Linked DNA regions of Homo sapiens. The protein of the gene in region 4 interacts with the protein of the main gene of each other region in a biochemical or structural test. Each region holds a gene or a part of one and is shown on either strand. Other genes may lie near its edges. The genes, in order: RTF1, ADGRG5, HMGA1, SRPK2, NADK, PNMA8B and HERC3.

Region 1 (3,978 bases), on a different chromosome or scaffold from region 4:
CGTCTCTACTAAAAATACAAAAAATTAGCCGGGCATGGTGGCGGGTGCCTGTAGTCCCAGCTACTCAGGAGGCTGAGGCAGGAGAATGGCGTGAACCCGGGAGGCGGAGCTTGCAGTGAGCCGAGATCGCACCACTGCACTCCGGCCTGGGCAACAGAGCAAGACTCTGTCTCAAAAAAAAAAAAAAAAAAAAAAAATTTGTAGACCAGGCATGGTGGCTCATGCCTGTAGTCCCAGCACTTTGGGAGGCCAAGGTGGGTGGATCACGAGGTCAGGAGTTCAAGACCAGCCTGGCCAACATGGTGAAACCCTATCTCTACTAAAAATACAAAAATTAGCTGGGCGTGGTGGTGGGCCCCTGTAATCCCAGCTGCTTGGCAGGCTGAGGCAGGAGAATTGCTTGAACCTGGGAGGTGGAGGTTGCAGTGAGCCGAGATCACACCATTGCGCTCCAGCCTGGGCAACAGAGTGAGACTCTGCCTAAAAAACAAACAAACAAACAAACAAACAAAAATTACACACACACACACACACACACACACACACACACACACACACACATATATATGTAGCGGCTGGGCACAGTAGACTCACGCCTGTAATCCCAACACTTCAGGAGGCCGGCGGGGGGGGGGGGCGGGGGGGGGGGGGGGCGGGGTGGATCACCTGAGGTCAGGAGTTCGAGACCAGCCTGGCCAACATGGAAAAACCCCATCTCTACTAAAAATACAAAAAAATGGCCAGGCACAGTGGCTCACGCTTGTAATCCTAGCAGTTCGGGAAGCCGAGGTGGGCAGATCATGACGTCTGGAGTTCGAGATCAGCCTGGCCAATATGGTGAAACCCTGTCTCTACTAAAAATACAAAAAATTAGTCAGGCATGGTGGCGCACGCCTGTAGTCCCAGCTACTCGGGAGGCTGAGGCAGAAGAATCGCTTGAATCCAGGAGGGGGAGGTTGCAGTGAGCAGAGATCGTGCCACTGCACTCCACCCTGGGCGACAGAGCGAGACTCTATCCCAAAAAAAAAAATAAAAACAAACAATCAAAAAAATTAGCTGGGCATGGTGGCATGTGCCTGTAATCCCAGCTACTCAGGAGGCTGAGGCACGAGAATCGCTTGAACCCAGGGCGGAGGTTGCAGTGAGCCAAGATGGTGTCACTGCACTCCAGCCTAGGCAACAGAGCGAGACTCCACCTCCAAAAAAAATTTTTTTTTTTTGTAGAGATCAGGTTTCATCATCATGTTGCCTAGGCTGATCTCAAACTCCTGAGCTCAAGCAATCCTCCCACCTCAGCCTCCCAAAGTGCTGGGATTACAGGCATGAGCCATTGTGCCTGGCCCTCAAGTGTTATTTTCAACTACCTACTTGATGTCTCCACTTAGACATCTCATAGTCACTTCGAACTCCACATATCCCAGACTGAATGCAGGATCTTCACCTCTAAACCTGCTCCTCCAGCACTCCCCATCTCATGCCAGTGCCTGGCATCAATCCTAAATACTCCTCTTCTCATCCTAACATCTAATCAGTCCTCAGTCTTCAAGGCCTTTTAGTTCTACATACTGAACATCATGTCCAACCAATTCCACTATCTGTCATCTCTATAACAACCATATCAATCCAAGTCAGTCCTTCATTTAATAAATACTGACTGGGTGCCAACTGCATATAGGCACTGCTCTAGATGCCAGGGACAGCATAGTGAACACATACGGTTACCCTCCTGGCGCTTCCATTCTAATGGAACTTATGTTCTCCATCATCTCTCATCTGGACTCCTCTCTCTGCCACTTCATTAGTGTCCCCCTCCATATTACTCTCCACAATAGTCTGGGTAAGGCAAATCTGAAAATCTTCTCCAACTTAAAATCCTTCAATGGCTTCCTATTACTCTCAGAATAAACTCCAAAGTCTCTACTAAAAATACAAAAATTGGCCAGGCGCGGTGGCTCACACCTGTAATCCCAGCACACTTTGGGAGGCCGAGGCGGGCAGATCATGAGGTCAGGAGATCAAGACCATCCTGGCTAACATGGTGAAACCCGTGCCTACTAAAAATACAAAAAAAAAATTAGCCGGACACAGTGGCAGGCGCCTATAGTCCCAGCTACTCGGGAGGCTGAGGCAGGAGAATGGTATGAACCCGGGAGGCGAAGCTTGCAGTGGCAGAGACAGCGCCACTGCAGTCCGGCCTGGGCAAAAGAGCGAGACTCCGTCTCAAAAATAAAAAACAAAAATTAGCCAAGTGTGGTGGCACACACTTGCAGTCCCAGCCACCGGGGAGGCTGACGCCCTCCAGTGGCTTTAAATTTTTTTCTTTTTTTCTTTTGTTTTTTTTAGACGGAGTCTCTCTGTCACCCAGGCTAATACAGTGGTGATCTCGGCTCACTGCAACCTCCGCCTCCTAGGTTCAAGGGATTCTCATGCCTCAGCCTCACCAGTGGCTGGGACTACAGGTGTGTGCCACCGCACTTGGCTAATTTTTGTATTTTTACTAGAGATGGGGTTTCGCCATGTTGGCCCGCCTGGTCGAACTCCTGGCCTCATATGATCCACCCACCTCGGCCTCCCAAAGTGCTGGGATTAAAGGCGTGAGCCACTGCGCCTGGCCAAAAAACTTTTCTCTTTTTAACGCAGCCCACAGGAAGATAAATTATACCTCACAACCCAGTATACATCTACATGTACATATGAGACACACAAATTTCATCACTTATATTTACTATGTATGACACATTTGATGTTTTCTATCAATTCAATTTTATTTTTACTGCTGAGTGTAGTCCGTAAACTGACTTCTCCATCCTCAAAGGGTCAAAACAGAATCTACCTCTACAGTTTCATTTGTACTATTCTCTCTCCAACTATGCAACTAGTTTATGTTACTCACTCTGTGCTTCTTTCAGTTTCATAAGGGTTCGAGGTCCTTCCTGTCTCATTTCTTTTATATATGCTGGTGCCTCAACCATGAACATTCAACACTCTTCCCTTTACTCTTCAGTCTTCTAATCTGCTTCTCCTTAACACATATTCCAGGTCTGTTTCAATGTCACTCTCATCAGGCTAGAATAGGGTCCCTGGTTAATATTTCCACAGTATTCTTGTCCTTGCTTCATGGCCTGTAGTGCAATTGTAAGGAAATTACTCTCTCTGAGCAATCTCCCCACCTCATCTCTCTCTCATTCCACTTTACACTCCTTGAAGGTGGAAACTGCTTCCATTTTGTTCACCCAATAGCTCTAGTGTCTAACGCTGTCTAATACATCTGTTGAACGATGAACAATCAGGCCGGATGCGGTGGCTCATGCCTGAAATCCCAGCACCCTGGGGAAGCCAAGGAGGGCGGATCACTTGAGGTCAGGAGTTTGAGACCAGCCTGGCCAACATGGTGAAACCCCATCTCTACTAAAAATACAAAAATTAGTCGGGCATGGTGGTGCATACCTGTAATCCCAGCTACTTGGGAGGCTGAGGCAGGATAATTGCTTGAACCCGGGAAGCGGAGGTGGCAGTGAGCTGAGATCGTCCCACTGCACTCCAGCCTGGGCAACAAAGTGAGACTCCATCTCAAAATAAATAAATAAATAAATAAAAATAAATACACCAATATGACCTGTGTCTGAAGATCAGTTTTGTATTTTTCCTAAAAGCCTCACTGTTAAAGCTCCCAGGGCTGGGCGTGGTGGCTCACCCCTGTAATCCCAGCACTTTGGGAGGCCGAGGTGGGTGGATCATCTGAGGTCGGGAGTTTGAGACCAGACTGACCAACATGGAGAAACCCCATCTCTAATAAAAATGTAAAATTAGCCGGGAGTGGTGGCGCGTGCCTGTCATCCCAGCTACTCGGGAGGCTAAGGCAGGAGAATCACTTGAACCTAGAGGCGGAGGCTACAGTGAGCCCAGCGTGCCATTGCTCTCCAGCCTGGGTGACAGAGCAAGACTCCATCTTGGGTGGGGGCTGGGTGGGGAGGGAGC
Region 2 (3,978 bases), on a different chromosome or scaffold from region 4:
CACCCTTACCCCACTCCGGGCTCTGGCCTCCCTGGCCATCTCTCTGGGCTGCAGTCAACTCCACCAGCTGGAGCAGATGCTACTGAACACCAGCTTCCCAGGCTACAACCTGACCTTGCAGACACCCACCATCCAGTCTCTGGCCTTCAAGCTGAGCTGTGACTTCTCTGGCCTCTCGCTGACCAGTGCCACTCTGAAGCGGGTGCCCCAGGTCAGAGGCTGCGGGTTGGGGGGTGTGGCCAGCTGCCCCGCCCTAGAAGTCCTCCAGGCATTTAAGGTCTGGACTTTCTTTAGGCTCCACTGTCTTCCTCCCCACACCCCACAGTCCAGGCTCTGCCCTAACTGGCAGTGAGTTGCCTCCTCTGTAAAATGGGGCTCATACTCGCTGTGTGAACTGTGGAAAGGGAGGTGCTTTATTGCCCCTGCAGGGCAGAATCTTCTTCCTGCTTTGGCTGGAGGCTGCCCGCTGCGGGAGGCGCTGTGGGAGAGGCCAGAAACCCTGGCTCCTTTTAGGACCCTGGGGTGATCAGCTGGATCCCTGGCAGGGGCTGGGGCTGGTGCTGGGGCTGGGTGCTGAGGTAGCTCCATCTTCAGGGGTTCAGTGGGTCAGGTAAACATCCAAAACTCAGGAACAGCATGGAGGGAAGGCCTGGGATCTTGGGAAGTTTGGGAGGAGATGCAGCCTGGGGGGAGAAGGTTCTGTGGGTGGAAACCCCAAGGAAGGTTTCACGGGGAGTGGGAGGCAGTGAAGGTGTTGGGGTCAGGTCTCCAGGTCCTGGTTGCCAAACAGCCTGTTTGCGACCCTCTGCAGGCAGGAGGTCAGCATGCCCGGGGTCAGCACGCCATGCAGTTCCCCGCCGAGCTGACCCGGGACGCCTGCAAGACCCGCCCCAGGGAGCTGCGGCTCATCTGTATCTACTTCTCCAACACCCACTTTTTCAAGGTCAGTGTGATGGCGGGCCAAGGAGGGTGGGTGCCGGCCCCTTCTTGGGATCCACTGCAGGTGCCCATGTCACTGCCTGGCCTCTGGGTGACCAGCACTGAGTGAGACCAACCAGCCATCTGTGCAATCCAAGCCAGCAATTGTCCCTCTCTGGGCCTCAGTTTCCCTGCCAACTTTAGCAGAATGGTAGGAAGGTATAATTACAATCTGCAAATAAGACCTAAGAAACCTACGATGTGCCTGTCGGTAGGCGGGAGACAGACAAGAAGGCACTTATTATTCCCTGCCCTCAGATAACTCTCTGTCTTGATGCCTAGACTAAGACCTTACAGATTTTTTTTTTTTTTTTTGGCAGAGTCTCGCTCTGTTGCCCAGGCTGGAGTGCAGTGGCATGATCTCGGCTCACTGCAACCTCTGCCTCCTGGGTTCAAGCAATTCCCCTGCCTCAGCCTCCTGGGATTACAGGCGTGTGCCATCATGCCCAGCTAATTTTCGTATTTTTAGTAGAGACCGGGTTTAACCACGTTGGCCAGGCTGATCTTGAACTCCTGGCCTCAAGTGATCCGCCTGCCTTGGCCTCCCAAAATGCTAGGATTATAGGCGTGAGCCACTGAGCCTGGCCTGATCTTAGAGATTTAATGTCAGCAGAAGGTTGATTATAGCCATAGAGATCCAGAGTGATGGATGAGTCAGGGTGGGGTTGGGGCTCTTCCCAGTGGGCAGTCCAGGGGAGTTTCTGGGGAAGGTGCCTTTCAACCTTGGCTTTGAAAGTGAGTGAGGATAGTGGTGAGGTGGAGGGCGTGAGGCTGGAATGCATTAAACGAATGGGAGGTGGAGCAGGGGGTGGTGAGAGGACAGCTTTCCACAGGGCAGAAACAGCACATGCAAAGGCTGGGAGGCTGGGAAGGCTGGGAGGCTGGGAGGCTGAGAAAGCTTTCACGCTGCACACGTGAAAGTCTTGCTGCTTGTTCTCATCCAGGGAAGCGGAGCTCAGACCTTACCCAGGGCCTCCCCATTTCCCCTCCACTCAGCCCTTCTCCTGCTGCCCTTCCAGGATGAAAACAACTCATCTCTGCTGAATAACTACGTCCTGGGGGCCCAGCTGAGTCATGGGCACGTGAACAACCTCAGGGATCCTGTGAACATCAGCTTCTGGCACAACCAAAGCCTGGTACTGCTGGGGGCGCCCCCGTTTCCACTGCACCCCTGCCCCTCTGTGACTCTCCTGTTGAACACTGGTTTGACTAGACCCAAACCTGTGGAACCATCTTGGAAATCCATCACACTTTGAAAATTCCTGCTCAAGAAATAAGAGAGAGAGAAGTTTTTACTCATGCATTTGTCAGAATTCTTTCAGTTGCAAGTAAGAAAAGACCACTTCAAGCCAGCTTGAGCACAGAGGGAACTGATTGGCACACATCCATGAAATGTCTAGAGGTGATCCACCAGCTTCAGACATAGCTGGATCCAGGGATGGATCTGATGCCCTTGTGGCTCAGTCTCTCTCCGTCTCAGCAATGGTCTCCTGTCTTGGCTGTCCATTCTGTGGCATGATGGATGCTGGAGAGCCAGACTTCCTTTCCCTCTTCCCATCAGGCTCTTCCCCCGACTCCCCACCCACAACCTGCCCCAGTGCAGATCAGGGTCTCAGGATCTTAAAGGTTCAGCTGGGTCACACATGTCCATCCCTGCACCTGTCACTGTGCCCAGGGGGATGGAATGTGTGGATTGGCCAGGCCTGGGTCACACGGCCCAGGGACTGGGGTGAAGGAGTGAGCTCCTAGGGTAAGTGCAGATGCTGATCCTGGAACAGAGACAGGGCTGCTTGTTGGGGGTGGGGGCAGAGTGGGGTGGTTCACAAGCCTCAGTGCCTCCATTTCTGGTTCCTGGCATTCCTGAAAAGCCCGGAGCCTCTGCTTTCTGGCTTCATCTTCCCTTCAGCTTCACCAGGACTGCCCTGCACTCTAAATTTCACCATCATCCTTTCCTTTCAGCTCTGGGCTTTTGCCACTATGGTTCCCTCCACCTGGAATGCCCTTGCCCTACTCGTGTTGAAATCCAACACGTCCTCTAAGGGTTCAGGGCCCCCACCTCCCCTTCTCCCTTTGGGTCAGCTCTGCCTACCCTCCATGGTCTTCCGTGACTACCTGTGTCATTTCCTCCACTTCTCCACCCACGTGGCTTGGCATTAGGGTTGTCTGTGGATGAGTCTCCCCCAACCAGGCGTGGGTCTGAGCACATTGCTGTTCCCCATGGGGAGGAAGGGAAGGGATCAGCTGGTTATGGAGCGCCTACTGTATAAAAGGCCAGAGCTGGACACTCAAGATTCCGTGTTGCCCTTTGTTTTTCCACCATTGTTGTAACATGGGTACGAATGATCCTATTCTGTAGATGACTAAACTGAGGCTCAGAGCAACTTGGTGTCTTGCCTGGGTCACTCTGAGAGCCCACAGTGGAGGTGGGACAGGAATCTGAGACTGTCTGAAGCCAAAGGCCAGCCAGTGCCTGGTAAAATGTTGGCAAATGTGCAGTTGAGTCACCGTTGGCCCCCAGGACTCCCAGACACTGATCTGCAGCCTTTCCTCTGCACCCTATGACTGACCCAGCATCTCCACCCAGGAAGGCTACACCCTGACCTGTGTCTTCTGGAAGGAGGGAGCCAGGAAACAGCCCTGGGGGGGCTGGAGCCCTGAGGGCTGTCGTACAGAGCAGCCCTCCCACTCTCAGGTGCTCTGCCGCTGCAACCACCTCACCTACTTTGCTGTTCTCATGGTATGTATGCATCCTGAGTGGGGCTCAGAGCTACAGAGGGCCCTGTGTCTGTGGCAGAGGAGCAAGGCAAAAGCTGGTGCAAGGGACAGAAAGTCCAACTGAAATGGGCTTAAGCAAAAAACAAAAAAAACTTTATGGACTCATGTTTCTGGAAAGGCTGGGTTAGGCTTCAGGCATGGCTTGATCCACGGGCTGATCACTAAGATCACTAAGATAGCACTCTATCTTTGTCCCTCAACTGTGCTTGCTCTGTGCTGGCTTAG
Region 3 (4,006 bases), on a different chromosome or scaffold from region 4:
AGATGGATGAGACGCCGGAGGCCTAGGCTACACATTTTTCCAGTAACCAATCCCTGCCTGCCATGGTAAGGGGTGGGACAAGCGGCTCCACTTCTGAACCCCTCTCAATCTGTAAGATCAAGGTAATTATAAGGTACCTGCCTGAACTACCTCCTGACTGCTTCAAGGATCAAACTAGGTAATAGTTTAGAAAAACTTAAAATAATAGAAAGAAATCTTCACTCTAACCAAAATAAGAACTAGACCATTTGAAAATGATTTATGGGCCAGGTGAGGTGACTCATGCCTGTAATCCCAGCACTTTGGGATGCCAAAGCAGGAGGACTGCTTGAGGTCAGGAGTTCGAGACCAGCCTGGACAATACGGTGGGACTCCCATGTCTAATTTAAAAGAAAAAAAAAAAAGAAGAAAAAGAGTTTTTACCCCAATGAGAGGAAAAAAACATTTTTGCAAACTTGTGATTTCTAGAGGGCCCAGGACCTCCATTTTCAAGCATCAAGAGACCCTCCAGACAGCAGGACTTTGGTAATTATTCTATCTTATAATGTTTCAGACTTGGAGACCCTTTTAAACAAGGTGGTTGGTGATTTATCCTGCTCCGTCATTAGTGGCTTGGCCTGCTCTGCAATTACAGGCAGTGATTAGAATCTTATATTACACCACAGGTCCCCCTTCAAACTAAACATCAAAATTAATCAACTAAACGAGTGCTGACCTCATATAAGGTCTGCCTGGGGCCCCCTCATCGAGGGGGTTCCAGTTGGGCGAAGCCAGTCCGGAATCCCAGAGAGCCTGGCCCGGCCTGCCTGGAGATCTTGGCGGGTCTCCCTGGAAGCTCTCATACCATCTGGTGCCTCCCCCCACCTCTTGCTGCTGGGGACCCTTTAATCCCCTCAGCCAACCCCCCACGAACTAAATGAAGGCCCGAGGCCCTTTCCAGTGAGGCCAAGAAACGTTCGTCTTTTCCACCTGTTTCTGAACATCAGAGGCCTGTCTTGGAGGAACTACATTTAGGGCCTAACCCCAATCCCTCACTTTGTAATAAGCCCGCTTGGGCCTCAAGCCTGTCTCCTCCATACACTGTGCATGCAAACTGTGCTCCTCAAATACTTAAGGACTCTGCAGGAAAGGCCCTAGGAAATTATCTTGGGGGTTCCCTTGTTTTCTTCCCCGTCCCCCGTAAAAAAGTAGCCCAGAGAAGCCTTGAGTTGCCTAAGGTCACACAGCAAGTTGGCGAGCAGGAAGAAGTAGGTTCCCGGAGACCCTTTCAACCCGACACTTTGCCTACCCGCCTAGCGGCTAGGGCTAAACCCCCGAGGCATCAGGCTCCAGACCCGGCCCGAGGGTGACTCTGCAAGTGTCTGCGCCCGGCCGTTGCAGGCCGGCCGGCGGGACCCGGGGCCAGGGCGCGCGGGGGGAGGGGCGCAGGCCGCTCCTGCAGGCGCGGGAAAGCAGCGCACCCCGACCGCATGCACCGCCACGCGGGTGCACCCGGCCCCACTTCCTGCCAGAGGGGGCACCCAAGCCCGCCTTGGGGCAGGAAACCTGGCGCGCGCGGGCGCGGGGGAGAGGAAGAAAGCCCCCTCCCTCCGTCCCCTCCCCGCAAAATAAAGCCCCAGAAGAAAATAAAATAGAAACGGGGAGTCAAAGGGACTAGTTCCAACAGAGCCCAGCAAAGCAGCGAAACCAGTTTGTGGGGGCGGAGGGCAGGCCCGGCCCCTGGGGCTGAAGAGGCGCGGGCCAGGCCAGAGGTGGGGTCGGGGTGAAGCCCCAAACCCAGGCCCGCGCTCCGGCCTCATCTGCGGAGGGGGCGCGAGAGAAAGGCCGAGAGGGCGTAGGGCCGAATTTGGGGGTTCCTCCCCATCTCCCTCACTTCCAGAACTTCCCTGAGCTGCGGGGGGCGCCCGACCCCCCACTCTCCTGCCGCGCCGCAGCCCGTGTCTCTCCCCGCCCCTCACCCGGGCCCGGGCTCGGGCTCGGGCTCCGGCTCCAGCGGGAGCGGCCGCCGCGCGAGGTGCGCCGGGCTCCTCCGGGCTCCGCCGGGTGCACAACTCGCGCTCGCCGCAGCTGCGCGCCCCCTCCCCCACCGCGCGCCTTTCCCGGGTCCCCGCCCCCCGCAGGGCGCCCGCGGCGCGGGGGAAGGGGTGCGGGCGTCCTCCCCGCGCCGCCGGGCCCCGCCGCCCGCCCCCGCGCCGCGCGGCCCTCCCCCGCCGCCGGCTCGCGCCGCCCCGGCCTGGGAATAAAGCCGGCGGCGCGCGCTGCAGCCCCGGGCGGCTCGCAGGAGGGGCGACGTGCGGGCGGGGGCGCGGGCGCCCCCCTCCGCCGCCGCCGCCGCGGGCCCCGGGGACGACTCACCGCGAGCTCGGCCGCCGGCCTGCGGTGCGCGCTCCGGGTTGCCGGGAGCGGCGGTGCTGGGCGCTGAGGACCGGCCTGGCTCCGCCGCGGCCGCCGCTGGTAGCAAATGCGGATCTGAAACCGGGAGAGAGCAGAGGCGCTCAGAGACCGCCGCCGCCGCGTGCTCGCCGCCCAGGCCCCCGCGGGGTATTTATGTGTCACAGCCAGGCGGGGGGACAAAAATATTCCCCCTCCCCCGAAGGATGGCGAGGGGCAGGAAGCTGGGCACGGCCCGTGCGCGGCCTCAATAAATAAATAATTTAATTAAATTATAGATATAAAAAAAAGAAGCCACCGGAGCGGCCGCGAACTCACGCCTTCTTGGAGCCGCGCCAGCGCCAGAAATAGCCCCGGCTCGGAGTCCCAATTAGAGGAGCGCAGCACCGGCTCAGGGGAGCTTAAAAAGAGCGACCCAGGGGCAGGGGGGACGGGCCCGCCCGCGCCAGCCGTGTCACTCAGGGGGCGGGGCCATGCAAATGAGCCCGGGGATTTAAAAGGGCGGCCGCCCGCCAGCCGCCGCCGCCGCTGCCGCGCGGGTGGGTGCTGACGGCAGGGAGGGGCGTGTGGGAGGCCTGGGCTGCGAACTCGAGTCGACCGCCCACTCCTCGCAGTCCCGGACGGAGGAGGTGTGGGAAGGCACGCGCAGAGGAGTCACGAAGGAGCTTCTGGCGGGGGGTGGTGACGGGTGGCGGTATCCTTCCTCCCTGGTACAGGGGTCCCAGGGAGAGTCACCTCTAGGGGCTTCCAGGGCGTGTGGGCCCGGCCCCCCCCCCAGGGCGTGTGGGGGTGGACGGGGGTCCACGCGGGCCCAGGGGGTGAAGAGAAACGCGCTCGTTAGAGAATTCCGCGGCCTACACGCCGCCCCCTAACTAAAATAGAGAGATGGTAGATTTCCCCTGGGCGGACAGGTGTCAGCATGTGCCTTTCAGTGTCAACCCGCGTGTGGCTGATTGGTGAGATACAAGTCTTGTGAAATTCAAACGTGAAACTTGTGAAATCCAAAGTGTTTTATTAATGGCCACCAGCGAGCCATGATCAAGGTGGAGCCTTCCAGCGAAACCAACGATTGGCTCGTTGGCAGGTACACCCAAGGGAGGCTTCATACCTTGAGGTGACTTAGATGGTGTTCTGGAGATACGCAGGCCCACTTGGGGACCTGGGCCCTTCCGTTGGGACTGTAAATAAAAATAAAAGGTGGGCCAGAGGTCGCCTGGAAGCGCTTTGAGGGCAGGGGCCGAGCACGCAGGCCATCTCCGCCACGCCTGGCCCGCCCGGCGCCCGGCTTAACAAAGACTTGTTGCACCGAGCGAGAAGGAAGCCAAAGGGGAAGATGGCGGGGAGGGCGGTGGGGGAGGAAAGGGCGCAGGCGGAGCGGCGCGCCCTGCAGGCCGGCCCGGGGCCTTCTCGGGCGCACCTCCCGCGCCCGGTCCCCGAGGCGGCCTTCCACACCTCCTGTGATGCAGGGAATTGAAATGCGCTCCAGTGACACACGGCTGTGACTCATGTTTTTCTCTGCTCCCCTTCTTCCTCCCCGGTCAGCCGAGGCCCTGGCCCAGCCCCCTCCTCAGGGGGCGAGCCGGCGGTGGAGGGGACGCAGGAAAGCCCTGGGCCC
Region 4 (3,978 bases):
CAGTGGCGTGATCTCAGCTCACTGCAACCGTTACCTCCTGGGCTCAAGTGATTCTACTGCCTTAGCCTCCTGAGTAGCCGGGATTACAGACGTCCACCAGCACACTCAGCTAGTTTTTGCATTTTTGGTAGAGACAGGATTTCACCATGTTGGCCAGGCTGGTCTTGAATTCCTGACTTCAAGTGATCTAGTGGCCTCAGCCTCCCAAAGTGCAGGGATTACAGGCGTGAGTCACCACACCCAGTATCTAATAAGGACATAGTGTTTTGACAGGACCACAAAATAGATCAGTCTCTTTCTTATTTAACATCCGCATGGAAAAAATTAGAACAACAGCTTCAGAAAAACAGGTAACTTAGCAGCCAATCAGAAATAATGTAAAGTGGTTTTGAAATAAAAATACTTCAACTCCATCACCTCACATTTCACTAAACTTGGCCACCATAGTCCAGAAAATGCATAAAGAAGACAATTTTTGAAAGGCTCTAACTATCCCAACTCTGCACAGATCATTAAAACTTAACAAGACAGGCTGGGCGTGGTGGTTCAAACCTGTAATCCCAGAAATTTGGGAGGCCGAGGCAGGCAGATAACTTGAGGTTAAGAGTTCGAGACCAGTCTGGCCAACATGGTGAAACCCCTCTCTACTAAAAATACAAAAATTAGTTGGGTGCGGTGGCAGGTGCCTGTAATCCCAGCTACTCGGGAGGCTGAGGCACAAGAATCGTTTGAACCAGGGAGGGGGAGGTTGCAGTGAGCCGAGATCGCACCACTTGCACTCCAGCCTGAGCAACAGAGTGAAACTCAGTTTTCAAAAAAAAAAAAAAAAAAAATTAACAAGACATTAAGTCTTACCTATTTGAGGATACACAGCTTTTATAAATGTGTCTACCCTTTAAATACACAACTTTTTTATAATTTGAACAACTCAATAATAAACGGTCTCTTTTAACATGGTGCATATAAAGTAATATGCGTAAGTACTTACAGGTTTCTGCTGTGGAGCCGTACTCACTAAAATAAAATCAAACAAAATCTGTATTTAGCAGAAAACAGACACATGCCTTCATGTAGGTCATTCGAATTGCAAAGTGAAATAATTATTGTCTTTTAATGGCTATCCAACTTCAAAAACTATTAATCAGAGCTTCTTAATCACAAGGATCTAGAGTAAGTTTATGCCACTGAAACAAATGAGTGACTCCTGAAGTCACAGCAGAAGTTACTCATACTGAGCCATTTCTCTTATTTATCTAAAATGAAATACTAATACATCTCAAACACAGTCAAGCTCAAGCACCAACAGATCACTTAAGAAAATGGAAAAGAATACATATCACAGTCATTAAACCAAATTTGTTTAAAATATAATGAAATGAACAATGTAGATGTACATCGATATTTGGAATCTATTTTGCAAGCTTTCTATAATTTAAATCAAATACTGCAGTTGGTATGCAGCAAATAGTCTAGGAATCACATGATTAAACCCCTACACCAGGGTCAAAAGCTTAACAGGCTGGGTCCATGATCTAAACAACACCCTGATGGCAGTAAAGGAGATGTGAAGAGAGCCCCAGGCAGTCCCAGGAGCCTCAGCCCTTTAGTATCCATGCTTGCCTGACAACACACAAAGGCACAGATCATGGTGTCGAAGAGTGAGAAGCACAGTCCACACTTCACTGCACCACCTCCCCGACCCCGCCCCAGAAATAAAGATATCCCAATACTCAGGTCACTTGATCTTCTTCCCCCACCATCAGGCCTTTTCTAACTAACTCCAAATCTGTTGATACAACTCAGGTTGACATAGCTATGCTAAATGGACAACAAGAATTTATGTACACAAAATTGAAGCCAGAAAAATATTCTGATGACTAAAGGTCAGCTACAGGAAAGCTGTTACTATGTTCTCCTCTGCAGAGAAGCTGGCAACAGAAAAAACTGTTCAAATATAGATGAAGCAGCAACTACAAATTTAAATGGCCTTTTAAAGGGGGACAAAAGTAAATACTTCCAATATTAAAATATAATGTAGCTGGGGCATTTTCCATTTCAAGGGTGCAGTTATTTCCAGCAATTAAACTTTTCCAAAATCTTCCTTATGTGTAACGTTTGATTCAGATACCTTCAACAACTGCAACTTTGCAAGCTCCCAATGCCCCCACACTGAAATGAAGCTGGCTCAGCTCCCTCACCTGCAGACCCTGAAGGAGGAGGAGCACCTGCTTTCTGCCACTCAGTGGCCTCAGCTGCCATTCTTCTCACATATGCATCATCCACACACATCAAGATATTTTCCGGCTTTATGTCAGTATGAATGATCTTGCACTTACTGTGTAAGTAATCTAACCCTTGAAGGACCTGGATATAGTAAAATCAAGAGAGAAGATAAGCTATTAATATCTCATTATATAACTTTTATTTATTTGAAAAACATGTAATACAATGCCAGGGTACAAAGTTTGATAAACACAAAAGGATATTTAGTAAAAATCTCCCTCCCATGCCTACCCACATTGGAATCCAGCTCTCCTTTCCATAAGCAACCAGTGTGTATAATTTCAGAGATTATTTATGCTCGTGGAAGCAAATGCATCTACATACAGTTGAACCTTGAACAACACAGGTTTGAACTGCATGGGTTCCCTTATACACAGATTGTCTTCCACCTCTGCCACTCCTGAGACAGCAAGACCAACCCCTCAGCCTACTCAACGCGAAGATAATGAGGATGAAGACCTTTATGATCATCTACTTCATATGATCTATCCACTTAATGAATAGTAAGTATATTTTCTCTTCTTTATGATTGTCTTAACATTCTTTTCTCTAGCTTACTTTGTTGTAAAAATATGCTATATAACACACATACAAAATACATGTTAATTGGTCATGTGATCATTAAGGATTCTGATCAACAGTAGGCTAGTAATTCATGTATCATACAATTGACCCCTTTAGGTATACAATTCAATGGATTTTAGATGTGCGACTATCATTACTATTTATTTTTTAAATTTTTTATGTATTTATTTTTTGAGACAGAGTCTCGCTCTGTCACCCAGGCTGGAGTGCAGTGGCACAATCTTGGCTCACTGCAACCTCCGCCTCCCAGGTTCAAGCAATTCTCCTGCCTCAGCCTCCCAAGCAGCTGGGATTACAGGCGTATGCCACCACGCCTGGCTAATTTTTTTTGTATTTTTAGTAGAGACGGGGTTTTACCATATTGGCCAGTGGTCTCGAACTCCTGACCTTGTGATCCACCTGTCTCGACCTCCCAAAGTACTGGGATTACAGGCGTGAGCCACCACACACGGCAACTACCACCACTATTTAAATGACAACATTTTCATTGCTCCAAAAAGAAACAACATATTCATCAGCATTCACTTCCCATCTCTCTCCTACCCCTTCTAACCCTTAGCAACCACTAATCTACTTGCTGATTCTGGACATTTCCTATAAATGGAATCATATAAAGTATTTTTTTGTAACTGGCATAATGTTTTCAAGTTTGACTCTTGTGCAGCATGTATTAGTACTTCGCTTATTCTTATTGGCAAACAGTATTCCACTGTATGGAGATACAACATTGTGTTTATCCCTTCACCTCATGAACATTTGGGTTATTTTCACTTTAGGGGCTATAAAAATAATACTGCTATTCACACTCGTGTATACATTTTTGTGTGAACATACTTTTTTTGAGGGGAGGTATATACCTAGGAGTTACCGTACTTAGGTCATATGGTGCCTCTATATTTAGCTTTTTGATGAACTGCCAAAGTGTCTTCCACAGTGGCTGCACCATTTTACATTCCTATCACCAATGTATGAGGGTTCCAATTCTTCGCCCTGAACAACACTTACTATCGTTTTTTACTTTATCCACCCAAGTGGATATGAAGTATCTTGTTGTAGTTTTGATCTACATTTCCCTGATGGCTAATGATGTCCATACATTTTTAACACTGC
Region 5 (3,978 bases), on a different chromosome or scaffold from region 4:
CGCCTGTAATCCCAACACTTTGGAAGGCCAAGGTGGGAGGATCACTTGAGACCAGGAGTTTGAAACCAGCCTGTGCAACATAGGGAGACCCCATCTCCACCAAAAAAAAAAAAAAATTTCCAGGTGTGGTGGTGCATGCCTGTAATCCCAGCTACTTGGGAGGCTGAAGTGGGAGGATTGCTTGAGCCTGGAAGGTTGAGGCTGCAGTGAGCTGAGATCACACCACTGTACTCCAGCCTGGGCAACAGTGGGAGATCCTGTCTCACAAAAAGACAAAAAAAAAAAAATTTCCAGTGCTTTCTTCTAAAAAGTTTCATAGTTTTAGTCCTCACATTTAGGTCTATAATCCATTCTGAGTTAATATTTGTATGTAGTATGAGGAAGTGGTTGGGCTTCGTTCTTTTAGACGTGGCTGTCCAGTTGTTCAGAACTATTAGGTGAAAAGATGATCCTCCTCATGTTGAATCACCTCAGCACCTGTCAAAAATTCATGGACTGCATGTGTGTGAGGGTCTGTGGCGTCTACCTTTGGGCTGGCCGTCCTGTTTCCTTGATGTGTATGTCCGTCTTGATGCTGCCACGCTGTCTGGTTCCCGTAGTTTTTCAACAAGTCATGAACTTAGCCCTTCGCGTTTGTTCTTGTTCAAAGTTTTTTCAGCTGGTCTAGATACTTTACATTTTCATGTGAATTTTATCAGCTTGTCCTTTCCTTTAGAGAAGCCTGCTTGGCTTTTGATGGTTGTGTTTGGGTAACATTTGCAGATCAATTTGATGAGAACTAAGATCTCAATATTGAGTCCTCCAATCCATGAACATGGTATGTCTCTCCATTTATTTAGGTTTCCTTTCATCTCTGTCAGCAATATTTTGTAGTTTTCAGTGTGCAGTTCTGACATGTCTTTTGCCAAATATATCCCCACATATTTTATATTTTTAATGCTATTATAGATCATATATATGTATATATATTTTAATAAGATATATATTTTTAATAATATATGTGTGTGTGTGTGTATATATATATATATATATATTTTTTTTTTTTTTATAAGATGAAATCTCACTCTTGTTACCAAGGCTGCAGTGCAATCTCGGCTTACTGCAACCTCCACCTCTCAGGTTCAAGTGATTCTCCTGCCTCAGCCTCCCAAATAGCTGGGATTACAGGCATGTGCTACCATGCCTGCCTAATTTTTTATATTTAGTAGAGACAGGGTTTCACCATGTTGGTCAGGCTAGTCACAAACTCCTGACCTCAGGTGATCCCCACCCACCTCGGCCTCCCAGTGTTGGGATTACAGGCGTGAGCCACCACACCCAGCTGTAAATTATATTGTTGTTATTATTATTATTATTTTGAGACAGAGTCTCTCTCTGTCACCCAGGCTGGGGTGCAGTGGTGCGATCTCCGCTCACTGCAAGCTCTGCCTCCTGGGTTCACACCATTCTCCTGCCTCAGCCTCTTGAGTAGCTGGGACTACAGGCACCCGCCACCATGCCCGGCTAATTTTTTGTATTTTTAGTAGAGACAGAGTTTCACCATGTTAGCCAGGATGGTCTCAATTTCCTGTTGTCTATTGCTAGTATATAGAAATACAGGCGATTTTTGTGTATTGAATTTGCCTTCTGAAACCTTGCTAATAAACTCACTTATTTGTTTTTCTACATAGAAATGTCATGTCATCTGCAAGTACAACTTCACTTGTTCCTTTTCTTATTTTGTTTAACAGACCTACATTTCATGCCAAACCTTTTCTGTCACTGTACCTTTTATTTTTTTCTTATGTTATTGCACTGGCTGTGGCCTCTAGTATAGTCCTCAATAGGAGTAGTTATACCAGACATGTTTTTGTAGGTTCTGGTTTTCATTGAATTTTTCATGGTTTTTTTTTCTTTTTTTCTTTTTTCTTTTTATTGAGGCAGAGTCTCACTCTGTCACCCAGGCTGGAGTGAGTGGTGCGATCTCGGCTCACTGCACCCTCCACCTCATAGGTTCCAGCAATTCTCCTGTTCTCCTTCCTCAGCCTCCTGCATAGCTGGAGTTACAGGTGCCCACCACCACTCCAGGCTAATTTTTTTGTTTTTGTTTTTGTTTTTGTTTTTGTTTTTGTTTTTGTTTTGAGTGCTGGGATTACAGGCAAGAGCCACTGCTCCCAGCCCTTTTTTTGTATTTTTAGTAGAGACAGGGTTTCACTGTGTTGGTCAGGCTGGTCTCAAACTCCTGACCTCAAATGATCCACCCACCTCGGCTTCCCAAAATGCTGGGATTACAGGTGTGAGCCACCGTGTCTGGCCGAATTTTTCATGTATTTGAATAAAACACTGGTATGTCTTTTTTCTTTTTTTTTTTTTCTTTTCATTTGAGATGGAGTCTTGCTCTGTCGCCCAGGTTAGAGTGCAGTGGCACGATCTCAGCTCACTGCAGCCTCTGCCTCCCAGGTTCAAGGAATTCTCATGCCTCACCCTCTCCAGCAGCTGGAATTACAGGCACGCGCCACCACACGCGGCTAGTTTGTTTTTTGTTTTTTGTTTTTTTTTTGAGACGGAGTCTCGCTCTGTTGCCCAAGCTGGAGTGCCATGGCGCGATATCGGCTCGCTGCAAGCACCGCCTCCTGGGTTCACGCCATTCTCCTGCCTCAGCCTCCTGAGTAGCTGGGAGTGTAGGCGCCCACCACCACGCCCGGCTAATTGTTTTTTGTATTTTTAGTAGAGACGGGGTTTCGCCATGTTGGCCAGGCTGGTCACAAACATCTGACCTCAGGTGATCTGCCCGCTTCGGCCTTCCAAAGTGCTGGGATTACTGGCGTGAACCACCGCACCCAGCCTGTACTTTTAGTCGAGACAGGGTTTCATCATGTTGGCCAGGCTGGTCTTGAACTCCTGGCCTGAAGTGATCCGCCCACCTTGGTCTCCCAAAGCACTGGGATTACAGGCGTGAGCCACCACATCCCGCCTGGTATGTCTTAAGCTAGGGAGATATTGACCCACTGGGACAGTACTGTCAATTCTCGCTAAACATTAGAATCTTCTGGGGAGCTCTTTTAAAGTGCCGGTGCCTGGGCTGTACCTTCAGGTTCTGATCATTCAGTCTGGAGGGCACGTAGGAATTGGTGTTGTTTGAAGCTCCTAAGGTGATTGTAGAATGCAGCCAGAGAGAGAACCAGCTTTTGGGTATTCAGAGAACCCGTTGGCTTTGACCGTAGCATAGGGCCCACAGTCTTGTGTCCATAGTTCCTGAACTTTCCTTCTGCCCACCTTGCCATCATCTCACATATTTTAGTTGTTTTATTTAGGCTGCTGTAACAAAGTGCCACAGGCATGGGGCAGGGGGCGGGTAAACAACAAAAATGTTTGTTCTCAGAGCTCTGGAGGCCAAGAGTCCAAGGTCAGGGTCCCAGCTAATTTGGTTCATCGTAAAGACTCTCTTTCTCACTGTAATGGCCATCTTCTCTGTGTCCCCACATGGCTTTACTTTTGTGCCCAGTGAGGGTGGGAACAGAGGTGAGGAGAGAGCTCTCTGGTGTTCTGTTTTGTTTTTGAGACAGGGTCTCTATTGCCTAGGCTGGAGTGCAACAGCACAATCACAGTTCACTGCAAAACCTCAAACTCCTGGGCTCATTGATCCTCTTGCCGGAGCCTCCAAGTACCTGGGACTGCAGGCATGCACCACTGTGTCCAACTGTTTTTGTTTTGGTTTTGTTTTTGTTTTTGTTTTGTAGAGACAGAATCCTGCTATGTTGCCCAGGCTGTTCCTGAACTCCTGGCCTCAAGTGATCCTCTTACCTCAGCCTCCCAAAGCCCTGGGATTACATGAGTGAGCCACCGTGCCTAGCCTGGTGTCTCTTCTTACAAGGATGCTCATTCTGTCTGATCAGACCCCACACTTATGACCTCATTTTTTCTTTTTTTTTTTTTTTTGAGACGGAGTTTTGCTCTTGTGGCCCAGGCTGGAGTGCAGTGGCACAATCTCGGCTCACT
Region 6 (4,446 bases), on a different chromosome or scaffold from region 4:
TCAGCTACTTGGGAGGCTGAGGCTGGAGAATGGTTTGAAGCCGGGAGGCGGAGGTTGCAGTGAACCAAGATCACGCCACTGCCCTCCAGCCTGAGTGACAGTGCGAGACTCTCTCTCAAACAAACAAACAAACAAAAAACTAGTCAGGCATGGTGGTGCATGCCTGTAGTCCCAGTTACTCGGGAGGCTGAGGCAGGAGAATGGCTTTAACCCGGGTGGTGGAGGTTGCAGTGAGCCGAGATTGCTCCATTGCACTCCAGCCTGGGCGACAGAGCAAGACTCCATCTCAAAAACAAACCAACAAAACAGATGCTTTTATAATGGTAAGTTCTCAACAAATACTTCTCTTAGCCATCTTTCATGGAGCACCAGCTGTGGGCCAGCTGCTCTTCTAAATGCTTTCCTGGATTATTCCCTTTAATCCTCATGAGAACCCTTTGAGGCCAGGCATGGTGGCTCACCATGTAATCCTGTAATCCCAGCACTTTCAGAGGCTGAGGCGGGCAGATCACTTGAGGTTAGGAGTTTGAGACCAGCCTGGGTAACATGGTAAAAACCCATCTCTACAAAAAATACAAAAACTTGCCAGACGTGATGGTGTATGCCTATAATCCCAGCTACTTGGGAGGCCTGTCATCCTTGCTACTCAGGAGGCTGAGGCAGGAGAACCGCTTGAACATGGGAGGCGGAAGTTGCAGTGAACCAAGATTGTGCCATTGCACTCCAGCCTGAGTGACAGAGCAAGACTCCATCTCCAAAACAAACAACAACAAAAAAACAAAACCCTTTGAGGTAGGGATGATGGTTGAGATATAAACCTACCAGCTGGTCTACAGAGCCAGATTCATATAGAGTAGGGGACAGCCTCATGGCCAACAAGGGACAGAGAAGCAAATGCATGTTTACAGTAGCTATGACTGACGTTCACACGCCCCAGTCTGCTGTCCCAGTCAAGGGAAATGCTTTCTTGCAAAATTCATGCCTGGTCTCACAATCATACATATGCTCAAAGCGTGTGCAAAACCACAGGATTTATTGTGCATGCATAGTTCAGAATACAGGAACGTGTATGGGAGTGAGGGCCGGTCCCATCGAGTGGGGCCTGTACCCTGCAAGTGAGGCCCATATACCCTGAATGGTGTCTTGCTCACAGGTGGTGCCTGGGCCCCCCTATTTGATACTGAGACCCATATACTGTGAATGAGGCCAGTATCCCGAGTAAGTCCTGGTCCTACGCTGCAAGGCCAGTGCCCTTTGATTTAGGCCTATATAATCCTGAATTCCACCTGGCCCCTGGAAGGGGGAATTGTAACCCCCAGTGATGCCGGTACCCTCTGGAAGGAGGCCTCTATCCCCTGAATGAGGTCGGGTATCCTTGAGTGATTTCTGGCCCTCTGTGGTTTCGGCCTTGTTTTTTGCTGGTTAATGAAAGTGGTGCTTCCAGGCCCCAAGTCCTTGTCATCGGGACCTTTAAGAAAAGCGTCTCAGGCCACAGCGACGCAGACCCCAGCTCAAGGCTGCACCGTTGCCATGGAGACGGTTGGGCGGGGGACAGGGGAGGGTGTGCGGCTCCCTCTGCGCAGGCGCACGCGCGAGCAGCCGCGTCGCAGCGGAACTGCTGAGATTCAGGCCCAGGGTGCGCGCTCAGACGCGGCGCGAGCGCCAGGCAAGCTGCGGCTGCTACCTCCCACGCCTCTCCAGGTGCACTCGGCGCCGCCCCCCTGCACCTGGCTGCGGTGCCGAGTCACTCAGGCCTGTGTCAGGGAGAGAGGGAGGGAGCTGTCCTGGAAAGCAGACACGTAAGCCCCCCGCGGATCCTCAGACAGCTCTGGAGAGGGGTCCCGGGGGAAGGTCACTGCGTCCAGCCGGCCAGCAGGCAGCTAGAGCCCCCGAGCCCCGAGCCCCACTCCAGCCTTGCCACATTCACCGGAACCGGGACTCTAAGCCCTGCAAGTGGCTTTCTAGGGTTGCATTGACACCGTGCGCTGCAGCCCACCCCTATCTCGGGCTCCCTGCTGCCCCAAGATCAGCGCCAAGGGGGCTGCACCATGGCCATGAGCCTTTTGCAGGACTGGTGCCGGAGCCTGGACGTGGACGCGCACAGGGCCCTGCTGGTCACCGGCATCCCGGAGGGCCTGGAGCAGGCAGACGTCGAAGCCGTCCTGCAGCCGACCCTCCTGCCCCTGGGCACGTTCAGGTTGCGACACATGAAGGCTTTGATGAACGAGAAGGCCCAGGCCGCCCTGGTGGAGTTTGTGGAGGACGTCAATCACGCTGCCATTCCCAGGGAGATCCCAGGCAAGGATGGGGTCTGGAGGGTTCTGTGGAAGGACCGTGCGCAGGACACGAGGGTCCTGAGGCAGATGAGACGCCTGCTGCTGGATGACGGGCCCACGCAGGCCGCGGAGGCTGGGACCCCCGGGGAGGCACCCACCCCTCCCGCTTCGGAGACGCAGGCCCAGGATTCTGGGGAGGTAACAGGGCAGGCTGGCTCGCTTCTTGGGGCAGCCAGGAACCCAAGGAGGGGCCGTCGGGGTCGCAGAAACAGAACCAGACGCAACAGGTTGACCCAGAAGGGCAAGAAGAGAAGCCGAGGAGGACGGCCGTCTGCTCCCGCGAGGAGTGAGGCCGAGGACTCTTCCGACGAGAGCCTGGGCATCGTGATCGAGGAGATCGACCAGGGCGACCTGAGCGGAGAAGAGGACCAGAGCGCGCTGTACGCCACGCTGCAGGCCGCTGCCAGGGAGCTGGTTAGGCAGTGGGCGCCCTGCAACTCCGAGGGGGAAGAAGACGGTCCCCGCGAGTTCTTGGCTCTGGTCACCGTCACCGACAAATCGAAGAAAGAAGAGGCAGAGAAGGAGCCAGCTGGGGCCGAATCCATCCGCTTGAACACCAAAGAAGACAAAAATGGTGTCCCCGACTTAGTGGCCCTGCTGGCTGTGAGAGACACCCCGGACGAGGAGCCGGTGGACAGCGACACTTCGGAGAGCGACTCGCAGGAAAGTGGGGACCAAGAAACAGAGGAGTTGGATAATCCTGAGTTCGTGGCCATTGTGGCCTATACCGACCCGTCGGACCCCTGGGCCCGGGAGGAGATGTTGAAAATCGCTTCTGTTATCGAGTCGCTGGGCTGGAGCGACGAGAAAGACAAGCGAGACCCCCTCCGACAGGTCTTGTCCGTCATGTCCAAGGACACTAACGGGACCCGCGTGAAGGTGGAAGAGGCGGGCCGCGAGGTGGACGCCGTGGTCCTGCGCAAGGCCGGGGATGACGGGGACCTCCGGGAGTGCATTTCCACCTTGGCGCAGCCGGATCTCCCTCCCCAGGCGAAGAAGGCTGGGCGTGGCCTCTTCGGGGGCTGGAGCGAGCACCGTGAGGACGAAGGGGGTCTTCTGGAGCTGGTGGCGCTCCTGGCTGCCCAGGACATGGCGGAGGTGATGAAGGAGGAAAAAGAAAACGCCTGGGAAGGCGGGAAGTACAAATACCCCAAAGGCAAACTGGGGGAGGTATTGGCGCTCCTGGCCGCCCGGGAGAACATGGGGTCCAACGAGGGGTCGGAGGAGGCTTCGGACGAACAGTCCGAGGAGGAGTCGGAGGACACCGAGAGCGAGGCGTCGGAGCCGGAGGACAGGGCATCCAGGAAGCCCCGGGCCAAGAGGGCGCGCACGGCCCCCAGGGGCCTGACTCCGGCCGGCGCGCCTCCCACCGCTTCCGGGGCCCGCAAAACCCGCGCGGGCGGCCGAGGCCGAGGCCGGGGCGTCACTCCCGAGAAGAAAGCCGGGAGCCGGGGCTCGGCCCAGGACGACGCCGCAGGAAGCAGGAAGAAGAAGGGGAGCGCGGGCGCCGGGGCCCATGCCAGGGCAGGCGAGGCCAAGGGCCAGGCGCCCACTGGATCCAAGGCCGCGCGCGGGAAGAAGGCCCGTCGGGGCCGGAGGCTGCCCCCTAAATGCCGCTAGTGGCCCCCCAAGAAGCCGCCCAGGCTGCGAGCAGGCCCCGCAGGGCACCCGCCCGCCTGTGGCCCCCGCCCTCCCCTCCCCTCTTCCTGTCCTCCGCAGACGCAATCTCCTCGCTTCACAGCGCGCCCGGGCCGCGTTTTGCCAGCGTCACGTTCCCCTCTCGGGCCCTCGCAGGCCGGGGGCGCCAGCGATCCCGACGGAGGAAGCCCGGATGGGAGGAGGAAAGAGAAGTGGGCGCCCGAGGCAGCAGCGCAGGGCCGAGATGGGGACGCGCCAAGTGGACCAGGATTGGGGGCCCGGGTTGCCCCCGGAGGGGGTGTGTGTGTGGACGCCGGGCACCTGCAGAGGCGAGCAGGGCTCTTCGTGGCGCTCTCGGGGCCTGCGCCTGGCAGGTGCTGTAGGCCGCTGTCGCCCCTACCCCAGTCTGACTGGGCCCTGGGTCTGTGGTGGAGGCTCAGTCACCAGCCGCGCAGCGCGTGTCAGGGCGCAA
Region 7 (3,978 bases), on a different chromosome or scaffold from region 4:
GGCCTGAGAAATGGGTGGGGGCTGCTGGTGTAAGTATTGGAGTGCAAAGACCACAGAACCTGGAGTTCTGATGTACAAGGGCAGGAGAAGAAGGATGTCCTAGTTCCAGAAGAGAGAAATAATTTGTCTTTGCTCTGCCTTTTTGTTCTGGGCTTTCAGCTGACTGGGCGGTGCCTACCCACACTGAATGAGGATGGATTTTCTTTACTTAGTCACTAATTCAAATGCCAATCTCTTACAGAAAACTGACCCAGACATACCCAGAAATAATACTTTACCAGCTATCTGGGTATTCCTTAATCTAGTCATGTTGACTCCTAAATTCAACCATCACCACCCCCTCCCCACAAATGAGTCCCTAACTGGGTTGCAGGAGGTCACTTCAGAAACTCTCTTTGGTTACATTTAGAGATTATAAAGTCATTTACTTTTATAATTAAGGCAGCTGGGATGAGCTCACACAATTCATTTCATATTTAGTAATTAGTTTTTTCCTCTAGGGAAAGATATTCTGGATTATGCTGATGTTGGCCTTCCAGAACAGGGGTTCTCAACCAGGGTGATTTTGCTCCCCAAAGGACATTTGGCAATTTCTGGTAACATTTTTGGTTGGTACAATGGGGAGGGACTTGCTATTGGCATCCAGTGGGTAGAACCCAGCGATGCTGCTAAACATCCTTCATTCCCACCTGCCCAGCAAAGAATCCTCTGGTCCCAAAAGTCAATAGTACCAAGGTTGAGAAACCCCGTTCTAGATGGATAGCTTTCATGACATTTGGGAAGGGCTCTTGGCCAGACTTGTTAGGTTGTTCATCCTTAGTATCACAGATTTCGTATAGAGTTGTGGGGAAAGCCTTTTATTTTTTTTCAAACTGACATCTGTGTATTTCAGAAAGTCTACTCCTGTAGCGTACATAGGATGCATCTCAGGAAACCAATCAAAATGAAGACCAGATTTACAAAGCAATAAATACGTATAGATAAAACATTTTGTTTTTGTTTTCTCAACAGCATAGCAAAAAGCATATGGAAAATTACATATGGGAAACCAGAATTCATTTCTATATTTTGGGCAGATTTATTTTAAAAACAATAACAACAACAACGAAAGACCCAAAAAACAAAGTACAAGCAATTTATCTTCATTTGAGCATAGGGTTCCGATACATATAATTATGATTTTTAAAAAATGTTAGAAACTCTTATGTTTTCAAAAATTATAACATTGCTGTCAGAGTGTATTAAAATCATCTGAATGTGTCCATTACTCAAAAACAGAAGCCTGCTTTGCAAATAGATAGCTCTTTTGTAAATTAACAAATGTGGTATGTTCAAGAGCAGGATATATGAGATATTCTCTAAGTCTCAAAAATGCTAAGATTTTATTTAAGGTTAAAAAAATGATTTAGTTGCTAGAAAGTTAAAAATAGTGGCAATGAAATTAGTCCTTGGGTGAATGTAATTGTATCCTTTGTGTTAACGATGAGAGACATTAACTTTGCATTTACTATAGATCATTTTTATTTTAAATACTTTGGTAAGAAAGGCTTTCAACAAGGAAGTTCTACTGTCATTTGTTGATGAGTGGACCAGTTTGCACAGGGGACGTTATTTGTACCAAGCCACAGCATCTACATCTAGTTCAATGAGCCACAAAAACAGAAAAAAACCAAAAAACACAAGATGAAATCAGGGAAATAATTATTTGTTTATAAACTTCAAGATAGCCTTAACTTGATATGACAGTCCTTGTACTTTGACTTGAAGGAAAACAGATTTAAAAATTTGAAAATTCTTGTAAAAGGAATTCCAGTGTGGTTTATTCTTTGTGAAAGAATAATATTCTGTATTTTGGGTTTATTATTTTGAGATTTATGCAAAGTGTAGTATTTTTGTGGATCTTATCTGCCAGATCAAATTTAAATCTGATTACTAAGAACACAGTATTTTACTTGTTTATAATTCCTATCAGAGTGTTTGCTTTTTCTTTTATTATATACCTTTTTGATTTTGTTTGTTTAGAATTGATGAACATTTTAAAACGAGTCCCAAAATCCCTGGGATTGACCTGAACTCAACTAGGGTGTTATTTGAGAAGTTAATGAACTCTCAGCACTCCATGATTCTAGAACAGGTATGTTTCTATATTTGTAAAGTGCATTCTTAAAAATGCATTTTTGTATCGATGAATTCAACTTCAAGAGAAAAAGAGTAAGATGAAAAAGTGAAAGTCTCCAAATCTTAATTTTGTAAAGTATTTACTCTGGGAATTAGACCTACCTTTTGCTTTCTTTTGGCTTAAACCTTTCCAAGGCAATGCCCCTCTAGAATATACAGTTTGCACTGGCAGGGATCTTTGGCTTTTCTTTTCATGGATGTGTACTGAGGGCCTAGACCAGTGTCAGGCTCATAGTAGGTTCTCAGTGCATAGTGAATGAATGAGAGTTGAGAGTCTATCAAATAGCTTATGAACTTAGAGAAAGTTAACTAGATCTCAAGTATGTTTGAATTTCTCATTACTCTTTTCCCTCATACAGATTTTGAACAGTTTTGAAAGTTGTCTGATTCCCCAGTTGTCAAGCTCACCACCAGATGTTGAAGCCATGAGAATCTATTTAATACTACCTGAGTTTCCCCTACTCCAGGATTCCAAGTATTATATAACATTGACTATTCCCTTGGCTATGGCCATTCTTCGGCTGGATACAAACCCCAGCAAAGTACTAGGTGAATTTGCTAACCTCGATATCAGTGGTTTTATGGTCATTTGTTTTGTTGGTGTGACTCCTGGCTCTCAGTGGATTGAGATCCAAGAATCTATTTGTTGCCATTTAATATCCTTAACACTTAAAACCTTTTTTTCTTTGCTGTTAATTTTTAGCTAACCCTATTTTCAAGTTGAAAATAAAACCATTATTTAGATTATTTGAAATGACTCATGCCAGAATAATCTTGATTTTATAGTATTCACAAACCTAATTTATTTAACTTGAAACTATTTTTTTCTACCACATTTGCTCAGTACCTCAGTATTACTGTACGTTGGTCTTTCTCCTATGTCTAATTTAGGGGGTGGGAGTGAAGTGAACAGTTTCGGTGATACAGAGGTCTCCAAAACAGGAGAGGAAGAAAATGACCTAGTGTGGACTTACCAAATGTTTGTTTTGTTTTTCTTTTTTAGGACCGTTGAGTCCACACTGATTTTTGCAGGCTCCGGACACTTTGCTGAGATAAAAACCTTCCATTCCTCAGTGATTTGGAGAGTGTCTTTCATGGGAGTAGCACCTGAAATGTTTTTATTACTCAAGTGCAGGAAGTCTATCACCTGGCTTTTTACTTTTTTCCCCCCTGGTAAATTTTGTTAGGTGTCATTGCAGCTCAGTAACTTCTGTGTTCCAGATGGACTGGGATGTTACTTGAGTGTGGTCTCGCCGTGAATAAAGAGATTGTGTTCCTGAAGGTGGAATACTGGCTTTTCTATATTGCCTCCACCTTTGTAGAAGAGATAAAAACAGAAATAATAATGAAAGCACTAGTAAATGTTAGTACTTAATTTTTTTTAAGATCAAAAGCCTTTTGGGGGCACATTTTCTCAGGTGTTCTAGTTGATGTGAAACAGAGAGGTGGCAATATCAGAAGAAATCTTACCTGACTTTCAAGTTTTAGAGTTTTTTCATTTTTATTTTTCCAGGCTGGAAAATACAAAGAGAACATAATTGTTCAATTTTACACTTTATTTTTAACTTCTAATTATTGATATTTAAAAGAATACCCCAAAGTAGAGAGTATGCTACAGGTAGTCACCACACAAATTCAGCAGTTGTCAGTATTTTGCCCATTTTATTTCATCTGTCCCTCGCCCTCACCACCTTTTTATTTTTTGTTGGAGTATTTTAAAGGAAATCTCAGACATACTATTTCATTCTTTAAGTATTTCAGTATGGCTGAGTTTATTTCCAACGAAGTATAAGCCAGTGG

The links.
Region 1: of the proteins of SRPK2 (region 4) and RTF1, one has a biochemical effect on the other in vitro, tested with the Homo sapiens proteins (one large-scale study listed by BioGRID and IntAct).
Region 2: of the proteins of SRPK2 (region 4) and ADGRG5, one has a biochemical effect on the other in vitro, tested with the Homo sapiens proteins (one large-scale study listed by BioGRID and IntAct).
Region 3: of the proteins of SRPK2 (region 4) and HMGA1, one has a biochemical effect on the other in vitro, tested with the Homo sapiens proteins (one large-scale study listed by BioGRID).
Region 5: of the proteins of SRPK2 (region 4) and NADK, one has a biochemical effect on the other in vitro, tested with the Homo sapiens proteins (one large-scale study listed by BioGRID).
Region 6: of the proteins of SRPK2 (region 4) and PNMA8B, one has a biochemical effect on the other in vitro, tested with the Homo sapiens proteins (one large-scale study listed by BioGRID).
Region 7: of the proteins of SRPK2 (region 4) and HERC3, one has a biochemical effect on the other in vitro, tested with the Homo sapiens proteins (one large-scale study listed by BioGRID).

Annotation. Positions count from the first base shown.
Region 1 is NC_000015.10:41,423,365-41,427,342, reverse strand, and holds part of RTF1 (RNA polymerase-associated protein RTF1 homolog), read right to left. Parts: intron 1-3,978. UniProt on the Homo sapiens protein: Component of the PAF1 complex (PAF1C) which has multiple functions during transcription by RNA polymerase II and is implicated in regulation of development and maintenance of embryonic stem cell pluripotency.
Region 2 is NC_000016.10:57,563,037-57,567,014, forward strand, and holds part of ADGRG5 (adhesion G-protein coupled receptor G5 isoform 1 precursor), read left to right. Parts: intron 1-54; coding exon 55-211; intron 212-811; coding exon 812-943; intron 944-1,997; coding exon 1,998-2,114; intron 2,115-2,252; exon of another isoform or gene 2,253-3,562; coding exon 3,563-3,715; exon of another isoform or gene 3,716-3,978. UniProt on the Homo sapiens protein: Orphan adhesion G-protein coupled receptor (aGPCR). Ligand binding causes a conformation change that triggers signaling via guanine nucleotide-binding proteins (G proteins) and modulates the activity of downstream effectors, such as adenylate cyclase.
Region 3 is NC_000006.12:34,235,667-34,239,672, reverse strand, and holds the start of HMGA1 (high mobility group protein HMG-I/HMG-Y), read right to left. Parts: upstream 2,801-4,006; 5' UTR 2,792-2,800; coding exon of another isoform or gene 2,710-2,791; exon of another isoform or gene 2,470-2,709; coding exon of another isoform or gene 2,356-2,469; intron 2,259-2,355; coding exon of another isoform or gene 1,293-2,258; intron 883-1,292; exon of another isoform or gene 716-882; intron 1-715. Other genes in the region: translation initiation factor IF-2-like, read right to left, coding at 1,293-2,258, 2,356-2,469, 2,710-2,791, 2,943-3,098, 3,417-3,427. UniProt on the Homo sapiens protein: HMG-I/Y bind preferentially to the minor groove of A+T rich regions in double-stranded DNA. It is suggested that these proteins could function in nucleosome phasing and in the 3'-end processing of mRNA transcripts.
Region 4 is NC_000007.14:105,144,295-105,148,272, forward strand, and holds part of SRPK2 (SRSF protein kinase 2), read right to left. Parts: intron 2,365-3,978; coding exon 2,199-2,364; intron 1,015-2,198; coding exon 989-1,014; intron 1-988. UniProt on the Homo sapiens protein: Serine/arginine-rich protein-specific kinase which specifically phosphorylates its substrates at serine residues located in regions rich in arginine/serine dipeptides, known as RS domains and is involved in the phosphorylation of SR splicing factors and the regulation of splicing.
Region 5 is NC_000001.11:1,768,112-1,772,089, reverse strand, and holds part of NADK (NAD kinase), read left to right. Parts: intron 1-3,978.
Region 6 is NC_000019.10:46,493,068-46,497,513, reverse strand, and holds the start of PNMA8B (paraneoplastic antigen-like protein 8B), read left to right. Parts: upstream 1-1,646; 5' UTR 1,647-2,048; coding exon 2,049-3,956; 3' UTR 3,957-4,446.
Region 7 is NC_000004.12:88,665,355-88,669,332, forward strand, and holds part of HERC3 (probable E3 ubiquitin-protein ligase HERC3), read left to right. Parts: intron 1-2,022; coding exon 2,023-2,134; intron 2,135-2,537; coding exon 2,538-2,727; intron 2,728-3,978. UniProt on the Homo sapiens protein: E3 ubiquitin-protein ligase which accepts ubiquitin from an E2 ubiquitin-conjugating enzyme in the form of a thioester and then directly transfers the ubiquitin to targeted substrates.